4 linked regions of the Homo sapiens genome follow. The protein of the gene in region 4 interacts with the protein of the main gene of each other region in a pairwise test. Each region holds a gene or a part of one and is shown on either strand. Other genes may lie near its edges. The genes, in order: BFSP2, HPCAL4, KLHL42 and ANKRD33.

Region 1 (7,200 bases), on a different chromosome or scaffold from region 4:
CAGCCAATGGCGACTATAGAGACACTGGGATGGTCCTTGTTAACCCCTTCTGTCAAGAAACACTGTTTGTGGGAAACGATCAAGTATCTGAGATCTAACTACAGCAGGCATCACTTTGCCATTCCGTATTTTTCGTCTCTAAATTATAAATATACAAATACATATATTATAAATATAACCTTTGTGTAACCCTGACTTAATGAGAAACATTTTCAGCTTTTTTTCCTATGAATTGTCAACATCTTTTTTACAAGTGTGGTTTAAAAAAAAAAAAAACTTTACAGAATGATCTGTGGCTTTATAAAATAAAGGTATTTCTAAGCAAAGCAGTTGCATTGATTGCTTCTCTTAATAACTATTCTTGAGCACCTGGGGATCCCAGGAACCCTGGTCAGGTGAGGTAAGAGACTGACCTCCTGTAGAAGCTGAATGTTACAGTGCAAGCGCACGATTCTTTGAGTGATTCTTAAAGCTCTGGTTCCTCTTGATTTGGTGTGACCCCATTTCCTCCCTTCTCATACGCACACCTGTAAAGGGAACTGGACCGCCTCAGGGGAAGACGGCAGACTCATGCACAGAGAAGGAAAAGGGAACATCTCATCACCTCTGAGGATGAGTACCCTGGAGCCTTATGACGGCACCATTGGATGTCATGTTTAATTCCATCCAAGTTGTGGATGGCAGGCAGGAGCATGGAGCCCTCAGGAATCCATGGAGGACATCAAGGCATCCCAAGGCCATATTCCCCTAACATTACTTCCACTGCTAACAACAGGACTGCCTTTCCCTGGTGGGAAAATGCTCCCTTTATGCCCATTCCTGTATCCCCTCCAACACCCACATCTGCATTAAACACCCGTGCCTTTCTCTTGGAGAGGGTTTAGATGCAGATCCCGGCCCTGGAGCTTTAAAATGCTTGCCCTTCCTTCTTCAAGGATCAAATGTTTATTGGGGTTCAGCTTTGTTTTCTCAAAAGGCCATGGTATCGTGCCCCTGAGGAACATGTTTATCTAAGAAGCTTTGAGGTAGTAGAGCGATAATTTTTGAAACCTTCCTCCTGCAATCTTTAAAAAAGAAAAAAAAGATTGCCCAAACAAATCATTTGGGAGAAGACATCATTATACTCCTACTTGGCACTGCAAACCTGCTCGCAGCACCAGCCGGTGGACTTGCCATCCAGCTCTCAGCTTCCACTGCTCCCCTTGTTCCCGGCCGGCTGGCTGCCTCCCCGTGCTGTGTCCAGCACGGCCAACAACGTCAGACCCTCAGAGACGCCCAAGGGGCTTCCAGAGGTGGCCGCTTCTCTATTTTTTCCTGATTGTGGCTGAGAGAGATGATTACTGCTTTGACACTTCCTTTCTCTAAAAGAAAAATAGTTTGATAGTATATTTTGAATATAGATGCTCTTATAGTCAGATTGGGAATTGAACTTGAATATTGGGTCATATGTTTGTGTTGTTGCTGTAGTCTATCATGACTTTTTTCTTTCTGCATTTTCCTTAAAAAAAAAAAAAAGATGGCCTTCAAAAGTGTGTTCTCAATGTTGTATGAACCTCCTTCACATGAGTTCGGTTGTTGTCTCTCTTCAAAGACTCTTCAACCCACAAAGAAGCAACTAAATGTTTCTCTAAGTTTAATTTTCTAGCGTGTTGTTGTCTTACCTTTTTAACCTTACCATAATATTTCTGTTAACTGTTACATTTAATATACCAATGTGTGTAAGTATACAGAGAAAAATCTGTTTGTAAAGTAAAATTTATATATAATATATGTAATCAAAGATACATATGTTATATATACATATGTGGATGTATGACTTATTTTTCCTTATCCACAGATTTCAGCTACCATGTATATATAAATAAACTTATTTTATTAGCCAGAGGATTCTGTTGCTAATACATTTTGCATTCTTTTCAAGATAAGCTCTAAGTCTTCCTTAAGCAGTACCAACACCACTTTATATCCATCTGTATTTTTTAATCTGATTTAACAGTAAGTTGAGTTTTATGTATGTGATGAGCTAATAGGATTAGCAGTTTATCATTTGATAAAATAAATCTTTTTGAACATGTTTGCAGTTTCTCCAAAACAGACTCATCTTTCATCAGGTCTTTGGAGACAGTGGTGTCAAAGTACATCCCCCCCTCTTTCTCCCTGTCTCCAGGGCTGAGTGGATTTATATAGTAAATATCTTTGGTCCGGAGAAGTCTGAAGTTAACCTGGCCATTGAGTGTTACCATTCTGTAGAGAATAACAATGCCTAAACATGACACATTTGTGCACAACTTAATCAGTAGCCTGAACTTTTCATTCAGCCTTGGACAATACATCTTGGAATTCACAATAATGCAGATCCTCAGAACCAAGTCAGTGTCATCCGTATAGGAGGCTGTTACTGTAACACAGGCTCGCATGCCCCTTCTGGGTGCATCAGGGGTGGTGTTCACAGCATTAATGCTACATCTGAATAAACAAGGACACTACTGGCCTTTACTTAATCCAATTGGTTCTTTCATCTGTTCATCAAATAGCCAACACTGATATTTATAAAATACCTCCCAGGCCATCTCAGAGAGACAAAGTGGAAGACAATAAAGAAAGGAAGGGTTGGAGTGTCCTGGTCAGTAGGAAGGAAGTGCACACAGGGTCCTCTAGTAGGCGACCAGGTTTTTTACCTCTACCTGCGTGACCTCAGGTAGGTACTCTGCTCTCTGGGTGGTGGGCAACAGGGAGGCTCCTAAGTAAGTCAGTGGCCCAGAGTTTGGAAGAGGTTGTCTGCCCCCAGCTCTGCTACTTTCTGGACATAGAACCTTGGGCAAGTCATTGCAGCTCTCGGGGTCCTCCTCACATAAGAGGACAGTGGCCAACTGTAGGACATGTCATTTTAGAGCTGTGAGGTACACAGCCCATATGGCAGTACCTGTCAACCCTGGACCTCCTTCCTCCTGAGGTTGAGTTGAGAATTCCACGAAATAAACCATAGGATTCATGCACACACCAGGCTGGATCTGCTACTCACTAGAGATTGACTCCCTTCTCCTTCTCTCACCTGAGGTACATTCCTACATTACAGCATCTGGAAAAGTATCCAGCTCTGGGGTTTGGTGACCTGGTTTCTCCAGGGTAAAACTTATGTACAGAGGTTTTTAGGTCCATGTTGTCATCCTGTAACTGGGGGAACCTTTCTGATCCTAGAGAAGTGATTGAGGTGTGACCCTTGGTGGCTTAGTGGATGCCAAGGTCAATAATTAAAACCCAGGGGTGTCATCATATCCTAACTTGGGGCACCCTTGGAGAGGCTTACCAGAAAACACCCTCGTTGTTGTTTTTATTTCTCAGTTTTCCAACAGATGGAGAAGCAGAGGTGTAGGGAATGGCCGGAACATGTGTGGGATCTGAATTTGCCCAAGGTCCTTATCTGGTGCATCAGAGAGTTAAAGGCCCAAGCCAATGTTCAGACAGTGAGGTCCAGAGGGAGGAAGCATCCTGGCCAACAGCAAGCAGCTGATGAACAGCAGAGCATTAGAGGACAGAGATGAGGAGGAAAGGAGAGAGGTGAGGGAAGGACCTGAAGCTGCTGCCAGGACTGAGAGAGGAAACCATAGGCAAGTCTTTTCTCTTGGGTCCCTGGAGCTGCCTCCTGCCATTTTTCATCCTCTATTGCCTGTGTGGACATGTGTTCACATTCACATGTGCCAGCACACATAGGGATGTAGAAAGCCCTGAAATAGCTAGATTGAGTCCTAGCTTGTAATCTGAGGTCTGGGGCAAGTGATCAGTACACTTGTCATCTGAGGTCCTTGAGCCTCAGTTTACTCATCTGTAAAATGGGGTTGCTTGATGCCTGCCTTGCCCACTTAGGTAGTAAAATGCACAAACCCAAATGGTCTACCTCCACAGCCTGCACTGATCCAGCCTCCCCCACCACCAGCAGAATAATCTGGGAGGTTGGGCACATGACCCTGCATCAAAGAATGCATGAGTGCCTCTCTGCACACAGCCCTGGGCAGTGCCCATTTCTCTTTCAGCTCAGTGAATGATGGAAACTCATGGAAGACAGCAGACAAAGCAGCCCCAGGGATAGGGGAGATTCCAGAGAGGCCCGTGACCAGGCCACAGGGATGCTGGGGCTGTAAACCAAAAGCCACTGGACTCTGTAAACCCACTGGGCACCACAGAGGCAGAAGGGGTGATGAGTGAGAGGCGAGTGGTAGTGGACTTGCCCACCAGTGCCAGCTCCAGCATGCCCCTCCAGAGGCGCAGGGCGTCCTTCAGGGGGCCACGGTCATCATCCTCCCTGGAGAGCCCCCCAGCCTCCAGGACCAATGCCATGAGTGGCCTTGTCCGAGCACCCGGGGTCTATGTAGGAACAGCACCCAGTGGGTGCATAGGTGGCTTGGGTGCCCGTGTGACCCGCCGGGCCCTCGGCATCAGCAGTGTCTTCCTTCAGGGCCTGCGGAGCTCAGGCCTGGCCACCGTGCCGGCTCCAGGTTTGGAGAGGGACCATGGTGCTGTTGAGGACCTAGGGGGCTGCCTGGTGGAATATATGGCCAAAGTGCACGCCCTTGAGCAAGTCAGTCAGGAGCTGGAAACACAACTGCGGATGCACCTGGAGAGCAAAGCCACACGCTCGGGAAACTGGGGTGCCCTACGGGCTTCCTGGGCCAGCAGCTGCCAGCAGGTAAGTGTCCAGGCTGTGCCAAGGGCTTTGCAGAGGGCTGGGAGGGGCTGCTGAAGGCAGCGGGTAGGGTTGTGAGTAGGCTGAGGCCAGAGAAACTGACCATAATCCCCTACACTTTCACACTTAAAATGGTAATGATAACAACAATGCTACCTTTTACCGAGGTTTACTAGGAGCCCACGCTAGCCCCCATACGTGCACTACCCACTGTCTTCTTTAAACTTCAAAGAAATGCTATGCAGTGGATCATTCACTGATTGCATTTTTCAGATGAGAAACTGAGGCATGTAATTTGCCCAAGACTTCAAAGCTAGTAGAGGGATGGAGATGAGATTTGAACCTGAATTTTTGTGCCTCCAAAGTTGCATTTGCCCCATTACCCTGGGGCTGCCTCAGTCACCTTTACTGTTGAGAAGGGATTTTTACAGCTATTATCCAATCAAATACCATTGGATGGATGAGGTGTTAAGAACAATGAATAAATGGAGGTGTGTTCCTGTATCCACCTACAACCACGCTGTTCAATAGAAATATGAACTACATTGGTAATTGACAAGTTTCTATTACCCACAGTAAAACACGTAAAAAGAAGCAGGTGAAGTTAATATTATAGCTTATTTAACTCTATATGTCCAGAATGTTATTTCAACATGTAATCAATACAAAATATATTAATGAGGTAATTTACATTCAAGTAGAGCTTTCTGCGTGATGGAAATATTAATATCTTATATCTGCACTGTCCAATCTGGCAGCCACTAGCCATATATGGCTATCAAGCACTTGAAATGTGGCTAATGAGACTGAGGAATTGCATTTTTATTTTATCTAATTTTCATTAATTTAAATGTAAACAGCCACAGGTAGCTAATGGCTATCTTATTGGACAGGGAAGGATGCAGAGGTTTCATCTTTCTCCCTTGCTTGGTCAGCCCTGCTTTTCCCACTCTCCAGGGTGATTTCTGCGGAGTCTGGAGCACATCCATCATGTCTGGCCTGCAGCCTGTAGTTCTAATGCTGGGACTCCAGCCAGCATTACACCTCTCAGCTGGTCTCTCTGTGGATAGCTGGCTTCACCTCTCCTCCTCCTCTTTCTCTCCAGATGCTGGCCTTGGGATCCCTCTGAGCAAAATCAGTCTCTAACCCACCAGGGACTGCCAACTCAGACCCTTGGCCCCCTGGAGTCCAGTATGCAGCCTCCCAAGAGGAGGTCACAAAATTTTATTTGTGTATAGCTGGGGGAAGCTAAGCAGTTGCACACAGGGACTCCCCATTTGCCCCTCCTGCCTCCCACTTCATCCCAGGATGCTTCTCCTGCACTGCTGTCAGTGCCCACTGACAGCACAGAGTGCATGATGAACAGCACCATCCTCTCAGGCTCTCCCCCTGGTGCTGCTGTTCTGCTTGCATCCATCTGGGCTGCAAGGGAGAGCCATCTTAGAACAGTCCAGGGCCTTAACGCCTGTCAAATCTAAGAGGCAGCCATTCCTCCAGGATTCTTCACAACTGTCCTTATTCCAAATATTGTGCCATAACAACCACCAGAACATCCCTAGATACTCCAATATGTCAGCATCTGCTGGACAATCGCTTGCAATCAGATGCCACACAGACTTGTCAGGAGAAATCAGGTATCCCAATGGCTAGGTTAAAAAGTAGGGCCACAAAACTTAGTTTATACTCAATAGATACTGACTTGTTCTGGCTCCAGATAGCTACAAGAGCCTTTGCAACTTACTAACTTCTCTGGGCCTCAGTTTCATTATCTACAAAATGGGTATAACAATGCTTACATATTCCAGCAAATCTGTAGACAAATAAGAGCCTGGCTCCTGCTTACAGGTAGAGTACAGACTAGGAAGCTCTAAAATCCTGTGAGAGCACCACAGCCACACACCAAGACATGCGACCTCTGTAGTTGAGGGTCAGGATCCCACATGGGCTCACTTTCCTCTTAAGTGACTATAAATGAGGGCCTGGGTATGAATAAAGTTCTCTTTTTCTTCTTTTTTAAAAAATCATGGACTTGAAGATAGAGTAAGACCAATTGATAAAATGGAGTTATTATTTCTTTTTTTTTTTTTTTGAGATGGAGTCTCATTCTGTCACCCAGGCTGGAGTGCAGTGGTGCGATCTCAACTCACTGTAACCTCCACCTCCCGGGTTCAAGCAATTCTCCTGCCTCAGCGTCCTGAGTAGCTGGGATTACAGGTGCACGCCACCACGCCCAGCTAATTTTTTTGCATTTTTAATGGAGATGGGGTTTCACCATGTTGGCCAGGCTGGTCTTGATCTCCTGACCTCAGGTGATCCACCCGCCTCTGCCTCCCAGAGTGCTAGGATTACAGGAGTGAGTCACCATGCCCAGCCTGGAGTTACTTTTTCTATATTGCACAGCCCAGCCTTTCAGCCATATTAAACTCTATTCCATCAAGAAGAACAAAAGAAAACTCCATAATTGAGAAATGCTCCTGATTTTTTCAGTGAATCTGGCCTCGTGGAGCTGCAGGAGGCCC
Region 2 (3,320 bases), on a different chromosome or scaffold from region 4:
GTTGGGTGCTGACTTCAGGGACAGGAAAAAGCAAGGTTTGCAAAGAGTGAAACTAGTGTATATTCCGTATCTTGGTAGTTCGTTTCTGGATTGGGTTTAGTTTCAGAACTGGACTTGTTCCTTCACTGCCACAGAATCAGAAAGAGCTAGAAGAAAAGGCTCACCTGGCCACTGTTTAGGCACCCAGACATAATTTATGGACGAAATGCCTAAAAATGTGCCAGGCATGCTCTGTTTGAGAGGCTTTTTCTAACCCCAAATCTTAGATCTGCCAGGTAGTTCAACATCTTCCAAGTGTGCTGGTTCTGCTTTCCAATGCCTGCTTCCCAATTTTGGATCCATGAGCTATACAGCTGCATGCTTTGACTGCCGGAAAAATTAATCTTGCTTCTTCATCAGGTCTTTCTCCTGTACTTGTGATCAGAAATTACCTTTGACGTGCAGTGACAGTTGATTTCCTCTTGAACTGCCGGTGAAAACAGTCTAGTACACAGGTGCTGTCAGCCCAGGGTGGGAGCAGGAAATGATTGCTGAGCCCGGGGCAGGGGAATTGCATCTGCAGGAAAGAGATGCAGCATGCTCCTCACTCCTGAGTGCCCACCTGTCCTGCTTCTCTGCAGGTGAAAACTCTGGGGGATGCTGATCAATAGAGCTTGGTCCCAAGCTCTACTGGGCCCTTGGAGGTAGCAAGGCCACTGGGTTGCTATCCTCTTGCTGGGGATAGCAACCACTGGTTTGCAACCACTGGGTTGCTATCCTTTTGCTATCCTCTTGCTCATGACCAGCCATATGGTGAGGCTGGGGAGTTCACATCCTCAGGCAGGAACTAGCAGTTGTTTATCCAGCAATGCCTCAAGGATGTTGCATTGCTCCCAGGAACTGGCTATTAGGTATGTCTTGTGCGGTCAGTCAGCATCACAGACACATAGATGCTCACCAGCCTGGCTTAGCTGGGACCTAAATCTTCTGGTGAAAAGCTTTTCACTAAGTGAGGTTCCTTCCCTGCAAATGCTGAATCTAGCCTAATTCGCAACCACACAGAATTTCATGGCTTTCAAAGGCTTGCCATGTGCCCCATCTCATTCTATACTCACATCCCATGGAGGTGAGGATTTTCACTTCTTTTCTCTAGACTTGGAAGCTGAGATTCAGAGAGGAAGCATCCCTTGTGCAAGATCACATAGTCAGGAGGTGACACAGGGCTAAGACTTGAACCAAGGCTCTAAGAGGATTTCTTCTTTTCAGAGTCTCTTCCCTGTCCATTTCTGTGACTAAGCTGTGCAGAGGTTGACAGCAGGGCAAGTTACATTGATATTCATCCTTTATAGGCTTCCTGCTAAAAAGCTTCTGAGATTGTGGTCTTCCAAAAAAAATAGGAGCTTGGTTGAAGTCCCCACATTTTCAAGCACTCAGTGTTCTGCCTCTGGCAGCTGTGCTAACAGCTCAGTGCTGTCCTGGGAGTCCTCTGACTCAGAACCCTCGAAGCATCCTGCATTGTCTTTACCCACCATCATCTTCACTAAGAGAAACATGCCTACCCATGAAGGCGTGTTTGATTACTCCAGGCTTCTGGACACACATACCCATGGGTGATTTTTGCTCCTCAGGCCCAATATTCTCAGACAGCCCAGCAGTGTGAACACACAATGCCAGGCCAGGAACTGGGACCACCATCTTGCTGATGGAAGGAACAACAGGTGGCCCAGGACATGCTCCTGCATACTCCTGGGTGTCCCAGGGACTGTGTGCTCAGGAGCACTGTGGTAGAGCACTGGCCCTGCCTTGAGAAGAGACACAGGTCTCCCGTCCCTGCACCAGCTGAGAGAGACTTGCCGCAAAGCACAAGGCTGGCAGAGATTTATGTATGACTTGCACAGACACAAAAATATACAGACAATCAAAACATTGATATATTCAAACTCTCCTTTAAATTCCAATCTTATTGCAACAACTCTGTGAATTGCAAGGTCCCAGAATCTGCCTTCTCACATACTCTACCCTCATTCATCCTTTTGGGCTAATTGATGAGCATCTTATTTCTTATCTCTAAAAATTATCAGCAAAGGCTACTTCAGATGGCCACTTTAGTCCTTTCAGCTGTAGTCAGGATTATTTAACTTACCTGTATATCAAAAGTGAAGAAAAAGTTAGTTCATAAGTAAAGGCACTAAATCCTTTCCTGACAATGGCAGAGTCTCTAGAGGTAGAAATTTGCCTTGCTGCAGAGAGAGAAGGAATGGCGTGGGATGGGGGAAAGAAAAGAAAGAGAAGAAGCTGGGGTCTCCAGGCAGGGTAGTAAGCTGACACTAAATATTTTTTACACAAAAATGTATTGAAGCAACAAATATTTCCTGAAGATCCACCCTGGGTGAGGCTTTGAGCTGACTTTAGAGATCACTGTGGGGTCAAGAATGTCTTACATGTTTTATTCATCATTCTTGAAAAAAGAAATAATTCAAACCTTGGAATTAAAAAGTCAGAAAAATATGGGATTTTCTTTCTGGAATTTTCGAGGTTTTCTTTTTACCTTTGCCAGAGTGTGGGGGCAGGACTGGGCCTGCCAGGGTGTATAGCCCTTCCTGCTTGGTGGAGGCCAGTCAGGCCCAGGGCCTTCTAAGCAGCAGTAGAAAGGAGGCTTGGGGAAGTGGGGGGTCTGGGTAGCAGGGGAAGGAGGCCAGTTCCAGTGTAGCCCCCTATCCCCTCCAGATGTGCTGCTTCTGGCTGTGCACTCAGTGACTGCCCTCACTGCTCAACCCTGTGCTGTGTGGTGTGTTTCTTTCCCCACTGACAGTGAATAAAAGGTGCAACTGTGCTGAGGGCTCCTGCTCTTCCCTACACTGGGACAGGATTGGGGTGGGGAGAAAGGGACAGAAGAGGCCTGGGGAGGCTCACTCAGTGAAGGGCCAAGGTCCTTGTTCTAGCAAGGACTCTGGGAACATGGCATGAGACTCACTTGAGCTAGTTCAAAGAAATGGGGGAGCAGATTATAAGGGACTCTGAAGATGGAAAATCAAGAATGACTGAACCTCAGGCCAAGCGCAGAGGCTCACACCTGTAATCCCAGTACTTTGGGAGGCCAAGGGGCAGATCACAAGGTCGAGATCGAGACCATCCTGGCCAACATACTAATAATACAAAAATTAGCTGGGCATGGTGGTGCACGCCTATAGTCCCAGCTATTCGGGAGGCTGAGGCAGGAAAATTGCTTGAACCCAGGAGGCTGAGGTTGCAGTGAGCAGCGGAGGTTGCAGTGAGCCGAGATCGCACCACTGCACTCCAGCCTGGTGACAGAGCAAGACTCCATCTCAAAAAAAATAAAA
Region 3 (6,880 bases), about 24 Mb from region 4:
TTTCTACTTGCTATTTCAAAAGGGATATTTTCCATAAGTTCTTTAAAAAATGACCTACTTCAGCTGGGTGTGGTGGCTCATACCTGTAATCCCAGCACTCTGGGAGGCTGAGGAGGGAGCATCACTTGCGCCCAGGAGTTCAAGACCAGCCTGGGCAACATGGTGAAACCCCGTCCCCACAGAAAATGTAAGAATTAACCGGGCATAGTGGCGCAGGCCTGTATTCTCAGCTACTTGGGAGGCTGAGGTGGGAGGAGCACTTGAACCTGGGAGGCCTCTGGGAGGAGCACTTGAACCTGGGAGGCTTCATTGAGCCATAATAGTGCCACCACACTCCAGCCTGAATGGCAGAGTGAGACCCTGTCTAAAAAAATAAAAAATAAAAAATAAAAATTACCTAACTCTATTTGACCATTACGCTTCTGTAAAACTGTTTTACAGATAGTACCACAAAACTGGTTTTTATTATTCAATGATCAGTCAATAACAGATCTATAAAATTATACCTCCAGTTATATAAAGCAATATTTTCAGGAAGACTAGGAATAATTTTAGGTCTTTTTAAAATAAAGGAGTTTATATTGCTCTGACTTTGCATTTCTAGCTTAACAGAAAACTTACTGCATAATTTATTAAAATGATTTGATCATTTAAGATGCTCCCAATCCTAAATAATGTTATTATCATATTGGGAGCCAAAAAAACTCACAAGATCAATGCCCAGTATTGTGAGACTAATACCCCAGACTCCCTGTCCAACCTCATCTTACCCTGATAATGTTACTGTGCTTGAATTGCCTTTCTAATGCACATCATTCTTTGAGCATGATTTTTTTGGTCTGTTTTAAAAAGGCAAGAAAATACCAGTCTGAGGCATATCTATGACGGCTGGGAAACAAAAGCATCCATTGGTGAAAGATTCAAGAGACAGAGGAGAGACTGAGAGCCTGTTCTTTGTGGCTGACCCACTGAATCTGGCATTGTTGCCGGTTGAGGCATAGAAAAATCGTAGGTCCAAGTCTCTTTGATACAGGGGACGCATCCCAGCAAAATTCCCCAGCCTGATGCTTAATACTGGATGTTACACTCTACCATCCCAAAGAAGCTGCTAAATGCTTGATCACTCACTCCACCTCCTGCTCCAAAGCTTATCGTGTCTCACTGCACCCTCATAGAGAATGGAAGTGTGAAGGGTTGATGTGAAAATGGAGTTTTATCAGTAACGATTTAAAGGCCAGGTGAAACAAGGTGAAGAGATGAATGTTTTTTATAGAATCCAAGAAAACAACTGAGTAAGTCATAGATCCATTTTTATTTCCTTCATTTTTTTCCAGGGAGGCCAGAATCTACTAGAACATTTTCTATGTCTTTTATTTTTTAGTTCCTTATTCCTAGCATTATTATAAAGAAAATAGGCCAGGCACAGTAGTGCTTTGAGAGACCAAGGCAGCAGGATCACTTGGGGTGGCAGGATCCCTTGGGGCCAGGAGTTTGAGGTCTGTCTTGGGCAAGGTAGCAAGACCCTATCTCTATGGAAAAAAAAAATGCATTTTTTTTTGCTGGGCATGGAGGCTCATGCCTGTAATCCCAGCACTTTGGGAGGCCGAGGTGGGTGGATCACGTGAGGTCGGGAGTTCCAGACCAGCCTGACCAACATGGTGAAACCCCGTCTCTACTAAAAATACAAAATTAGCCGGGTGTGGTGGCTCATGCCTGGAATCCCAGCTACTCCGGAGGCTGAGGCAGGAGAATCACTTGAACCCGGGAGGTGGAGGTTGCAGAAAGCTGAGATCGCAGCATTGCACTCCAGCCTGGGCAACAAGAGGGAAACTCTGTCTCAAAAAAAAAAAAAAATGCATTTTTTTTTCTAAAAAATAAAAAGATAAACCTCCTTTCCCAAGTAATAATAATAAACAAAGTAAAAGATGACAACAACACCTCTCTGTGAAGCAGATAAATTTCGTAGTAAGAACCACAAATGTAACCAAACTATGTTGAAAGGATCTCATGTTTCACCTTTGACTTTCTTTTAGTTCTCTGGTTTTTAACCCTTTCTCCTTCCTAAGGTAAAATGTTAGCATGGTAGGATGTATCTTCTTTAAATAGGGGAAATGTACTTATGAAGAAGATATTATTTAACAATCTGTCATTCAAGAAGAAAGCTGAAGCTTGTAATAATAAAAAAAAAAACCAAACACATATTCTCTCCAAGTTAAGGACTGTTTATCATAGGTGGTTCTCAAATCTTGGTTTGGGGTAAGTTTTCAAGGTTTTCTGTTTTTGTTTTGTAAGATAAGAGTGAACACACCCTCTGCTTCCTCCCAATCCTTCTCCCTTCTCCTACCCAAAGATAATCCAAACAATATATTTCTCCCCCCACCCCCTTCCTGGGATGAATTCATTAGCAAGACAAAAAGTCCTTCCTATTATTATTTGGGGTGGGCCTTCTAATTGCAATGTTCAGTGAGAGAACATAGGAAACAAGTGGTCTCTCTTTTCCGAGACGGCGTCTCGCTCTGTCGCCCAGGCTGGAGTGCAGTGGCGCGATCTCGGCTCACTGCAACCTCCGCCTCCCGGGTTCCAGCAATTCTCCTGCCTCAGCCTCCCGAGTAGCTGGGATCACAGGCGCGTGCCACCACGCCCGGCTAATTTTTGTATTTTTAGTAGAGACGGGGTTTCACCATGTTGGCCATGGTGCTCTCGAACTCCTGACCTCGTGATCTGCCCACCTGGGCTTCCCAAAGTCATGGGATTACAGGCGTGAGCCACCGCGCTCAGCCAAACCGCACGTGTGGTCTCTCTTAATAGTCCTCAGATGATGGGGGCAGGGTAGGTGGAGAAAGGGGGTGACAAGAAAAGCTACTTCTTGCAGACATTTATGAGCCAATTTTGTCAGATCTTTTGCGCCAGGATAACATTCCGTAATGGACTGGACTGAAGTAGAAAAGCAATGGCTCATAGAAAACATGGTTTAAAACCAGAAGCCACGTGATGTAACTTTATTTAGTCGGGCTGCGCTTTCATCTTTCTTTTAATAACTTAGGGAGAATAAGGGGCCCCAGTGGCAAATGCAAGCTCCCCTGCCTCCCAACCCGATTCCTCTGAGAACCTGCTGCCATCTGCCTGGACCTCCTGTAAGATGGCTCCTACGCGACCACGCTACCAGAGAATCAGCTCTACGTGCCACCAACATTGCCACCAACTGTCCATAGATCGCCTGCGTGCCTCAGCCCACTGACACTCGATGCCGGACTGGGCCAGAAGGACGACCCCATATTTGATGCCTTTTTGTCTCCCTGGACCAGAGACTCCATCCTTCCCTTTCCTCCCACGCTCATTTCTTTTTCTTTAGCCCGTGTAAAGCAGCGTGGGAGAGAAAACGAATTTCTTCTCCCTGGGGTACCCCGGAGCATCACTGCAGCCCCCAACAAGCGGCGGAGCCGGCGCGCCCCGGGCGGGCGGAGAGGCTGCGGGGACGCGCGCCCTCCGCCTCCCGCAGCTGCGCGTCCGCAGCCGAGGCGCCCGGGCCCGCAGCTTCCCGGGCCTCCCCGAGAGCCGGATCCAGCCGGCAGGTCAGGCCGGCGGCTGGGGTCCCGCGGGCGGAAGTGAGAAGGGCGGCGGGGGAGGAGGCTGCTGGCTGGGAGCTGGAATTCCCTTCCCGCCTGGCGCCGCCCGGGAGAGCCCGCGCGAGGACGCCCGCCGCGCTCCGCCGGCCCTTTTTTGGCGCTGAGGGAAAGGAGAAGGGCAGGGCCGCCGCCTCGCGGGAGCGGGCCCCGGGAGGAGGGGCCGCCGGAGAGGCCGGGCGAGCGCGGGCGGCCCTCACCTCGCCGCTCCTCCCGGGCCGCCATCCCTCGGCGCCCCGCCCGGAACCGGCGCGCGCGTAGGGGCTGGGAGGCCGGCGCGCAGATCTGGCGGTGAGCGCTGCCGCCCCGGGGCCCCCAGCCATGTCGGCCGAGGAGATGGTGCAGATCCGCCTGGAGGACCGCTGCTACCCGGTGAGCAAGAGGAAGCTCATCGAGCAGAGCGACTACTTCCGCGCCCTCTACCGCTCCGGCATGCGCGAGGCCCTGAGCCAGGAGGCCGGCGGCCCGGAGGTGCAGCAGCTGCGCGGCCTCAGCGCGCCGGGCCTGCGGCTGGTGCTGGACTTCATCAACGCCGGCGGGGCCCGCGAAGGCTGGCTCCTGGGCCCGCGCGGGGAAAAGGGCGGCGGGGTGGACGAGGACGAGGAGATGGATGAGGTGAGCCTGCTGTCCGAGCTGGTGGAGGCGGCCTCCTTCCTGCAGGTCACGTCCCTGCTGCAGCTGCTGCTGTCCCAGGTGCGGCTCAATAACTGCCTGGAGATGTACCGCCTGGCGCAGGTGTACGGGCTGCCCGACCTGCAGGAGGCCTGCCTGCGCTTCATGGTCGTCCACTTCCACGAGGTGCTGTGCAAGCCCCAGTTCCACCTCCTGGGGTCTCCTCCCCAAGCTCCAGGGGATGTCAGCCTGAAGCAGAGGCTGAGGGAGGCCCGGATGACTGGGACTCCTGTCCTCGTGGCCCTCGGGGACTTCCTGGGGGGACCCCTGGCCCCTCACCCCTACCAGGGGGAGCCCCCGTCCATGCTCAGGTACGAGGAGATGACTGAGCGTTGGTTCCCGCTGGCCAACAACCTTCCTCCCGACCTGGTCAATGTCAGGGGCTATGGGTCTGCCATCCTGGACAACTACCTCTTCATAGTGGGCGGGTACAGGATCACTAGCCAGGAGATCTCCGCTGCGCATTCCTACAACCCCAGCACCAACGAGTGGCTCCAGGTGGCCTCCATGAACCAGAAGAGGTAAGCACCCCGGCAGAGTGCTGCTGCCTTCTCATTCATTCACTTGTTCATTAGTTCATTACCCCAGTGTTTACTGAGCCAGTAAATAGGGGAGGGTGTGCTGTGGTGGAAATGACATCTTCAGGAATGTTGTTGGCCTTGGCGCTGGCAAAATTCCCAATGAACTAAGAAATTGCGAAGAGGACGTCCCCAGTGAGGTCAAGAAGTGGAGTGGTTTTTTGGCAGGTATTGTGCCTTTAGGTGAAACTGCTTTCTTTGCCTCTGTTCTTGTGAAAAAAGATGTTGTGGTTTCCTACAAGAATACTTTAAAAGAAAATTGCCCCTTAATTTTTAAAAAATTTGTCTTAGTTTTTAGGATTTGATCCTGATGATAATGATACACTGGACAGTAACCTGTAACACTGACTTTGGGGGATTTTTTTCTGATGTCAGTGACTGTGACAACAGAGTCTTCCACACTGTGATACCCATCATGATCAAGAGATAATCACTGGAAATGTATTAACGTTTGCAATAGGGGTTGCTTTTCTTATTTTTTATCCTCTCTTTTGCTTCCTTCCCTGGACAGCCATCGTCATGACCCACAGCTTGAGCCTGGAAGTGTTCAACTACAGAATTGGAATATTTTCATTTACGCAACCTTCTCCCCCTCCCATCCTGCAAATCTCTCCTGCCTCCAACAAGGGTGACTTGAAGAAAGGAAGAGGAGGAGCTTGAGGAGTGGGATGAGAGGGGAGAAGGGAAAGGAACCAGGGAAGGAATATCAAAACAAGAGCAAAGAGCATATACAGGAAGAGATGGTAGGAAATAAAGATGGTAGCGCCTAGGAGGCCTCAGCGTCATTCAGAAGCAGGGAAAAGAATCAATGTAACTCAAGAAAGGATGAAAATACCCTTTCTTCCCATCCACGTGTTTCCATCTCAATCCTCACAGGGTCCTGGTCCTGAAGTGTGGAGCAAGGAGTTGGGGAGCTCACAGCTGGGCAAAGAAAGTCTTAACAGTAACAGAGAATCCTTTATATATCTGTTTATTTGACTCGAGGGTCCTCCTCGGCCAGGGATTATTTGGGGGAAATAACTGGCTTTATTTCTCCTATAATATGAAATTCATTTTGAAAAGTATGCTTTTTCCCCTGATAATACATAGTTACAGAAAACTGGAAAATGGAAAAGAATGAAGAAGCAAAAAGATGATTATTCCTACCCGCTCTTCCTAGAGGCAGTAACCAGGTTGGCATATTTCCTGCCAGCCCATTTTTAATGCATTATTTACACCATTGAGATGATACCATATTTAAAATTTGGTATCAGAAGTGTTATTTTAAAACAAATTCTATGCACTGTAATTGAAACAACAAAGGAACATTGTGTGGCCATGGGTGGTGGTCTGATTAGGGGTGGGCGGCCCTGAGTTCTCTCACTCCTCTTGCATTCCTCTAGCTACACATCATTTGGTGCTCACCAGGCCATCCTTAGTGCCACAGTTCCTCACACTTCTTTCTTCCCTTCATACATCCTTGGTAGTCTTTGTCTTTTTTTCTAGGAAGGCCCTTTTCATCCCCTTAAAAAAAAAAAAAGCATTCAAGTAATGCATGAATGCATGATTCTTAGAAAAACTGCAAATTACACACAAAACTGTGGAGTAAAAAGAGTAAATGTCTGCCCTCAGGGTACAGAAAAAAAGTGTCAGTGTATCAACAGACTTTTGTTACCTTTAGATATTATAAATGTATAAACATTTATACTGTAAATTATATGTATACTTGTATAAATACAGTTAACCCTTAAACAATGTGGGGGCCAGGGACACCAAACCCTGCACAGTCAAAAATCCCCATATAACTTTTGACTCTCCCAAAAACTTAACTACTGAATAGCCTACTGTTTACCAGATGCCTTACCAATAACATAATCAATTAATACATTTTGTATATGTAGTATATACTTTATTCTAACAATAAAGTATGCTATAGAAAAGAAAATGTTATTAATAAACTAAGGAAGAGAAAATTAAGCGGAAGTGGATCATCCTTATCATCTTGACGCTGAGTAGGCTGAGGAGGAA
Region 4 (7,994 bases):
CCACTGAAGGCACTTGCTCAATATGCCCTGAGGGCTCTGGTAGGGGACGAAGACCCACGGGGACCTCTGGGGACTCCCTGGCGGGGACTGGGGAACCAGGGGAGGGGGCGGGGCAGTACCTAACAGCTCTGGCACGGACTTGCTTCGGGTGCCCAGCGAAGGTGGATGGTCAGGGCACAGAGTGTGGCAGGCAGTGGTGACGAAGGGACTGGCCAGGCTGGTTGTGGCAGTCACAAGGTGGTCCAGAACACCCCCCTCCTGAGGAGACGGGGCAAAGGGGAGGCTCAAGGTAGCCTGCAGCCGTTCTAGGAGTGAAGGGGCAACCTGGGCCTGGGCCTGGGCCTGGGCCACGAGCCCGGACAAGGCCGGCCACTCGGGCTTGTAGTGCTGGCTAAGCTGCTCCACTTGGGGCCGCCTCAGCAGCTGCCGAATCCTCCACACGGTGTCGAAGCTGTCGGTCAGCACTGCCCATTCCAGGGCCGTCTTGCCCCGAACAGGGTCCACTGCTGTCAGGTCAGCACCTGGGAAGGAGCACAGGGGGTGACATGGGGCGGGATAGGGGTTGGTGATTTGTGGAAGGGCAGATTCTTTAGGAGCAAGACTGATGTGGGTTACATTCGAAGCCATAGAGTCCCATCCTGTTGAAGGTGGAATCAGGGAGGCCAGTGTTGCAACCTCCTGTTTAAGAGAGATTAAGACACTTAGGTCCAGAGAGGGGAAAAGACTTCAGAGAGACCTATTGTGGGGCTCCACCTAGGGCAGAATAGGGATCTCCTCAATCCAAGGAGCTGAGCAGAGCAGCGGTGCAGGCTGCCCAGGACAGGCAGAGGCCTGAGCTGCACCCTCTGGGGCAGGTGGGTGGGGATGATCGGCTGGTTCCCTCTCCTGGTTCTTCTCTTCTCACCATCTCCCTCTCCCATCTTGGGGTTGTGGGAGGAGCAGTCACTCTAAGACAAAAGAAAGGGTGTAGAGCGCCCTCCTTTTTCATTCACTCCTTTTTCACTCCAAACCCAGTGGGGTGTGTGGGGAAGGGAAAAATGGAGGCAGGGGTCCCCCAGAGTGACCAGCAGAGGGCAGCCCCACTGCGGGGAAGAAGGGCCCCCAAACAACTCCATGGACAATGTGGACTTCACCGCACCTCCCCCTGAACGACCCCACAGAGCCACAGGCCTCAACGACACTTCCCTGGATCCCCTGGAAGCCTGGCTTGTCAGAGTTGGAGGTAGTCCCAGGGAAAGCTAACACCCTCACAATACTGGTGAGGCCCAAAGAGGGAAGCCACTCAGCTAGGAACAGGGGCTGGTTCCAGATGCCAGCCTTTTTTCGTGTTAGATTTTCCAGCTGGGCTAGGTTCCCCTCCCACACTTTCCTTCCTGGGACCTCCACACACAATGTCTGAGCTATCAATAGCAGGACTTGGTTGATTGTACGAAGCCCAAATCATGTGCCCCCCCCTCCAGGAAGGTGAACTAGATTGATCCCCCATCTCCACCTCTCTCCTTTCTGCAAATAATCACAGCTGACTTAGTGTCTGGTGGGAAGGCTTGGAGGAGGGACTGGAGGCCACACACCCCGGTCCAGGCCCCGCACACCTGCCATGAGGAGGGTGGCCACGCACTCACAGCGGTTCCGCATGGCAGCCTTCATTAACGCCGTGAGCCCCCGCTGGTCCCGGCGTTCCAGGTCCAGGCCCACATAGTAGTTGAGCAGGAGACTCACTAGAGGCACGTGGCCTGCAGGGCAGCAAGGGTAAGCTTGGTCCCCAGGAAAGGGGGTGATGAAGCTCCCAAACCGCCCTCCACCCAGCATGACAGAGTCTGGTGTAGAACACCGTGCAACAAGGGTGGGGCTGAGGCCCTGTCTGCATCAAAAGGGGGCTGTCGGAAGTGGGGTGCAGCAGCCTCACACCTGCTTGGGCAGCCAACATGAGGGCCGTGTCCCCTCCTTTGTCCTGCTGGTTCACATCAAGGAAAGGACAGTGGCTGAGCAGGGCCACAACACTCTGGAAGCCGTGGTAGCATGCGACCATGAGGCCTGTCTGAGGGAGGGGCAGCTCAGATCCCCTGCTTTCCCCCTGGGCCACTCCAGGGCCCCTTGCACCCTCTAAACCCATATCTGTCCCAGAGCCTGCCCCAAACCCCGTGAAGACCCGCCCTTAACCATTCCCTTCCTCCTTAGGACTGCAGGAGGTATTGCCCCTGAACCCCTCTCAGGGAGCCAGGCCAGGACGGTGTGGTGGGGATGCAAAGATGCCCCCAGCTGTTCTGGGAAGCCAGGACATCTCACCCTCCCATTGCTGTCCACCTGGGTGGCCTCCTCTGGGGAGACCCCACCATCCAGTATGGCTTGGAGCTGGGTGGGATCATTGTGGACACAGGCCCAATACAGGGCCCCCAGCCTGCAGCCTGGGGTGGGGGTCTCCTTGCCCGGGCAGGGCAGTGCCTCAGACATGTCCAGCCGTCTCCTGTGCAATGCCAGCTCTTCCTCTTCCAGGCAGGGAACCAGAAGGTGAGTCCCTTTTCTCATGCAGCTGGCATCTAAAACACAGAATGGAGAGGAGTAGTGAGTGTCTCCCTGGATCCTAGGGAGGGGACCCAGCAGCTGCGAAGTGCACAGCCCTTGCCCCAGGGAAAACATTTATCCCAGCAGGGGTCTCGCCCCATCCACCCTGAGAAAGGACAAGCGCTGGGTCAGGAGCCCTAAGCAAGCAGGGTTCACTCTAGGTCAGCACCCCAGTGAGACTCACGGAGAGAGGGTCGTCGTTTTTTCTTACTTGGGGTTCGTAGGGTATCTATGAGGCAGTCAACGCGGGGCACAGCCCAGGCTCCGCGGAGCACAATCACTGGGTCTCCGAATGCCTCCAGGTGGACTATCCCTCCCCAGGAAGCAACGCAGGTAACAGATGGCTGGACTTTCATAAAGAGCTGCTGCAAACACCTCGGGGCTGAGCCGGATCAAGCAGCTGGGACTGGGGCCCCATGCGGGGCGGGTGGTCACGTCTCAGGAGCGGACTCAGACCAGCCCCAAGATCCTCCGGGTGGGCGGGGCCTGAGCCGGGCAGCTCCTCCCCGCCGGGGCGGGCTCACAAAGACGACTCCTCCTGACGGACGCGCCCACTCTCAGCCTTGGGGACGCCGGCGGAGATGCTGCCTCGTGGGGTCTTGGCCCAACTTTTTAGGCCCAGCCTAAAGCCCCTCCTAATTGGGTGGAGCGCGACTTGCTGAAGGGGTGGTTGCGGGAGAGGGGGTGAGTGAATGCAGGTATCTCATTAAATAGGGTTGGTACTCTCAGAATGACCCTGGGGTGGGGTCTCCAGGGGGGTCACCTGAACTTATTTTTTGAGGTTCTGGGGAAATAAAAACATAATTGTCAAATTATGAGTATAGAGCTGGGCCCGGTGGCTCACGTCTGTTATCCCAGCGACTCAGGAGGCTGAGGTGGGAGGATCGCTTGAGCCCGGGAGGTCGAGGCTGCAATGAACCGATGTCGCGCCACTGAACTCTAGCCTGGGCAACAGAGGGAGACCTCCTTTTAAAAAAAAATTGTGGCCAGGCGGGGTGGCTCACGCCTGTAATCCCAGCACTTTGAGATTCCAAGACGGGTGGATTATCTGAGGTCAGGAGTTCAAGAACAGCCTGGCTAACATGGCAAAACCCTGTCTCTACTAAAAATACAAAAATTAGCTGGGCTTGGTGGTGGGCGCCTGTAATCCCAGCTACTCAGGAGGCTGAGGCAGGAGAATCACTTGAACCCGGGAGGCAGAGGTTGCAGTAAGCCGGGATCGCACCATTGCTCTCCAGCCTAGGCAACAAGAGCGAAACTCCTTCTCAAAAAACAAAACAAACAAACAAACGAAATTGTGAGTACCGACATTATGTGTCTAGTGCAGGTGGGCAGTCGGGGCACAAAGTGCGGCAGGCAGTAGTGAGGGAGGGATTGGCCAGAAATTATGATGTATGAAATTTAATAGATTAGTTTCAGTGTGATAAATTAAATATGAAATATTTAAATTAAATGATCTGTTAATATAATGATAAATTGTTATCAAAATATTCTTTAATATTTATATTACATATTAAGCTTGATGGATTGGTCTTGGTCCACAGATGTAGAAAATGGAGCCAATGATATTCCCCCATTGGTATCACTCCCATCATCAGACTGTACAAGACCTCTCTCTTGTTTTGTTTTACTTTCTTTAGTTTCTCTCTTTCACCCTTAATCCCCACATCCCATTCTCCTCCACCCTTTACCAACTGGCACTTGTATATCCTTGAAAATGTACATTTCATTGAAAAAGATAGTACTGATTTGTGTGTTTTTATTTTATTTTTTTCTTTTTAGAAACAGGGTCTTACTCTGTCACCTGGGCTGGAGTGGAGTGGCATGATCATAGCTTACTGCAGCCTCAAACTCCTGGGCTTAAGTGATTCTCCCACCTCAGCCTCCCGAGAAGCTACGAGCTTCTCGGAGGCACACAGGTGTGTGCCACCGCGCCTGTCTAACTTTTTTATGTAGAGATGGGGATCTCACTTTGTTGCCCAGGCTGGTCTCAAACTCCTGGCATCAAGTGATCCTCCTGTCTTGGCATCCCACAGTGCTGGGATTGCAGGCATGAGCCTCCATGCTCTGCTTGTATGTGTTTTTAACTAACATGTTATGAATTGTGCTATAGAACTTATTCTGTTAGTTTTTTCTTTTTCACTTAAGCTCCATCCTTATTGCTTTAGGTGCAGTGTATCAGTTGGATGTGCATTTGGTTTTTAGTAACCAAAAAGCTGAATGGTATGTTGTCCATAATAGACGGGCTCCTCAACATTAATCTAAAACTGCTTTCAGTGTTTCTTCTGCGCTGCAGAAGTTGGAAAGCTAAAACAACCCTTCCCAGATTCCCTTGAGCTATGACTCTGTGGTTTGCGTCCTGCTCTTGTGCAAGATATAAATTTGGAACAGAGCTACGTAGCATGGGACATCCGTTTTGCTGTCACAGGTCATGGCAGCAGCAGCAAGGCTCTGGTGAGCAGCTTCCTGATTCATCAGCTTCCTGTAGTAGTGACTGTTGTTTTCTCAATCACAGGCAGAGGTCATGTGACTCTCAAAGCTGGGGGTTGTTCCTGGACCTAAGCCTGCTTCTCCATCCCTTTCTGTTTAAACTGATCAGATTTCTTTCTTTCTTTCTTTCTTTCTTTCTTTTTTTTTTTTTTTTGAGACAGAGTTTCACTCTTGTTGCCCAGGCTGGAGTGCAATGGCGCGATCTCGGCTCACCACAACCTCCGCTTCACGGGTTCAAGTGATTCTCCTGCCTCAGCCTCCCCAGTAGCTGGGATTACAAGTATGTGCCACCACCCCGGCTAATTTTGTATTTTTAGTAGAGACGGGGTTTCTCCATGTTGGTCAGGCAGGTCTTGAACTCCTGACCTCAGTTGATCAGCCCACCTCGGCCCCCTAAAGTGCCGGGATTATAGGCGTGAGCCACTGCACCAGGTCCAGATTTATTTCTGTTGTCTGCAATTGAACTCTGACACATGTAGCTTAAACAAAGAGGTGCTTGTTTTTAATACATGATAAAAAGTTCAGGAATAGGAAACTGTTGATGTTGGTTAAGAAACTTGTCAGGGCCTTCTCTGGGATTCTCTTGACTTTTCCTCCTTGGCACAAGATGGCTGCTAAACCTCTAGCCATCACAGCAAAATGGGATAGATGCACCCTATGGAATTCTATACAGCAGTTAGAAAAAAATCTATCAGATGATAAACCAGACATCTCTGATTATCTAACACAATCCCTGTTCATAACTCCCCTTCTCTCTAGTTACCTTTCAGTTAGGTGTTATCATGTAATGCAGTTTTGGCCAATGAAATGCAAACAGAAGTCTGATGGATAGGGATTCTAGGAAAAAAGTTCATGCTGTTGTTGTAAATAAATTTTCAATGCTGCAAGGAAATAGCACTCGAACATAAATTTAATTTTCTCAGCATGGCAATTTTTACTTCTATAGAAGGGTGCGAGTCGTGAATGGAACAATGGCAAGAGCACACCTGGACAGGAGAGGAGAAGGAGTTCTTATTCCTGACACACGGCCCTACTGCTGTGGCGTTCCCCTATTGGCTAGGGTTGGACCGCACAGCCTAAGCTAATTCCGATTGGCTATTTTAAAGAGAGCAGGGATATGAGTTAGAGTGGCGGGGTGGGTAGTTTGGCGGGAAGGACAGTTAGGAACAGGGAACTAAAGGTGACTTAGATCAGAGCAGGTGACCAGGGTGACTCAGGTCAAAGCAGGTGACTGGGATGACTCAGGTCAAAGCAGATAAACGGGATGAGTCAGGATGGAGCAGCTGACCAGAGAACAGATGTGAACTACTGATTAGGACTAGAGGGAAAGTTGTTTACTAAAACCAGGAGCAAGGGAACGGAAGAGAACCAGGAAGCTAAACTTTAAAATGGATAATCAAAGAATAAGAGAGCTGAACATACTGACATACTGATTCTTTGAAGAGAAACTTGGGGTTCACTATAATTAACACTGTCTTGATGAAAGATGTAGAGTGCACCACTTTTTTTCTTTCTTTCTTCCCTCTTTCTTCCCTCTTTCTTCCTGCTTATAGAATTCCATAGTGTGCATCCACCTCATTTAGCCTATCCCTTCTTCCTGCAATAGATGCTTAGGTTGCCTCCAACTTCCTGTCACTATAAATAATGCCAAAGTGAACACCCTCATACGTATCTAGTTGTGGACCCATCGGGGTCTCTGAGATCACTAGATCACAGGGCACATACACACTTACTGAGTGGATACTCAGGTTGCACTCTGTTTCACCATGTGTGCCTACCAGCAGTGCATAAGAGTCTCCCTACGTCTTAGACAACACATGTCATTATTCAGCCTTCTAATGTTTGTCAATCTGATAGAACTATAAAGCGATATTGCTATTTTACATTGAATTTTTCTGATTATCAACAAGGTGAGCATCTCTCCACATGCCCTGCTGGCCAATCTTGTTTTCCCTCCTGTGAATTGACTGTTCATGGCCTTTGCTCAGTATTCTATTGAATTTTCCTATCCTTTTCTTATTGATTTTTCAGGAATTCTTTTAATATTCTAGATAATAAAGCCATTGTCAGATGGGTTATAGATGAGGCAACTGTACTATATAAACCCTTCTGTTAGCTTTATCTATGGTGACCTTCATTGAAATAGCTCCTGAATTTTGATATGGTTAAATTCACCAGAATTTCTCCTTATACTTTGTGTTCAGGGTCTTGTTTACTAAGAATTTTCTACTCCAAGATCACAAAGATCTTCATTTCTTTTATTAATCTTGCAGTTTTATTTTTAATATTTAGTCTTTAATTCATCTGGAATTCACTTTTATAATATTGAAGAAATAATCTGTTATAGACTAAATTGTGTCTCCCTCAACCAACCCCAATTCATATATTGAAGCCCTGACACCAAAAATGACTGTGTTTGGAGACAGGGCCTTTAAGGAGGTAATTAAGGTTAAATGAAGTTATTAGGGCAGGATAGGGCCCTAATCCAATAGAACTGTTGTCCTTATAAGAAGAGGAAGAGACACCAGAACTCTCTCTCTCTGTGCCTGCACAAGAAAAGGACACGTGAGGACACAGTCAGAAGGTACCATCTACAAGCCAAGGAGAGAGGCCTCTCTGGAGACCAATCCTGCTGACACCTTGATTTTGGATTTCTAGCTTCCAGAACTGTGAGAAAATACATTTCTGTTGTGTAACCCATCCAGCCTGTGTATTTTGTTAAAGCAACCTGAACAGACTAATAAAGGATCCAACCTTATTTTTTTCTCCATTTAGCAAGATAACTCCATCTATTAAACAATTCTCTCTCCCTTGATTTGTGGTGTCGTTTTTATCACATGTAAACGTTGAGTTCTCTTTTATGTTTTATGCTATGTTTCAGTTATCTTATAGCATCTTATGAGGGCATTCCTGTGCCAATGCTACACTGATTTTATTACTCT

What was found.
Region 1: the proteins of ANKRD33 (region 4) and BFSP2 interact in binary tests that used the Homo sapiens proteins (3 or more experiments, as listed by UniProt).
Region 2: the proteins of ANKRD33 (region 4) and HPCAL4 interact in binary tests that used the Homo sapiens proteins (3 or more experiments, as listed by UniProt).
Region 3: the proteins of ANKRD33 (region 4) and KLHL42 interact in binary tests that used the Homo sapiens proteins (3 or more experiments, as listed by UniProt).

Annotation. Positions count from the first base shown.
Region 1 is NC_000003.12:133,395,889-133,403,088, forward strand, and holds the start of BFSP2 (phakinin), read left to right. Parts: upstream 1-4,167; 5' UTR 4,168-4,195; coding exon 4,196-4,684; intron 4,685-7,200. Other genes in the region: TMEM108 (transmembrane protein 108 isoform 1 precursor), read left to right, coding at 1-98.
Region 2 is NC_000001.11:39,678,140-39,681,459, reverse strand, and holds the end of HPCAL4 (hippocalcin-like protein 4), read left to right. Parts: 3' UTR 1-2,812; downstream 2,813-3,320. UniProt on the Homo sapiens protein: May be involved in the calcium-dependent regulation of rhodopsin phosphorylation.
Region 3 is NC_000012.12:27,776,387-27,783,266, forward strand, and holds the start of KLHL42 (kelch-like protein 42), read left to right. Parts: upstream 1-3,846; 5' UTR 3,847-3,944; coding exon 3,945-4,816; intron 4,817-6,880. UniProt on the Homo sapiens protein: Substrate-specific adapter of a BCR (BTB-CUL3-RBX1) E3 ubiquitin-protein ligase complex required for mitotic progression and cytokinesis. The BCR(KLHL42) E3 ubiquitin ligase complex mediates the ubiquitination and subsequent degradation of KATNA1.
Region 4 is NC_000012.12:51,883,111-51,891,104, reverse strand, and holds the start of ANKRD33 (photoreceptor ankyrin repeat protein), read right to left. Parts: upstream 3,003-7,994; 5' UTR 2,919-3,002; coding exon 2,774-2,918; coding exon of another isoform or gene 2,747-2,773; intron 2,538-2,746; coding exon 2,287-2,537; intron 2,039-2,286; coding exon 1,909-2,038; intron 1,734-1,908; coding exon 1,623-1,733; coding exon of another isoform or gene 1,525-1,622; exon of another isoform or gene 948-1,524; coding exon of another isoform or gene 946-947; exon of another isoform or gene 679-945; coding exon of another isoform or gene 616-678; exon of another isoform or gene 522-615; coding exon 1-521. UniProt on the Homo sapiens protein: Acts as a transcriptional repressor for CRX-activated photoreceptor gene regulation.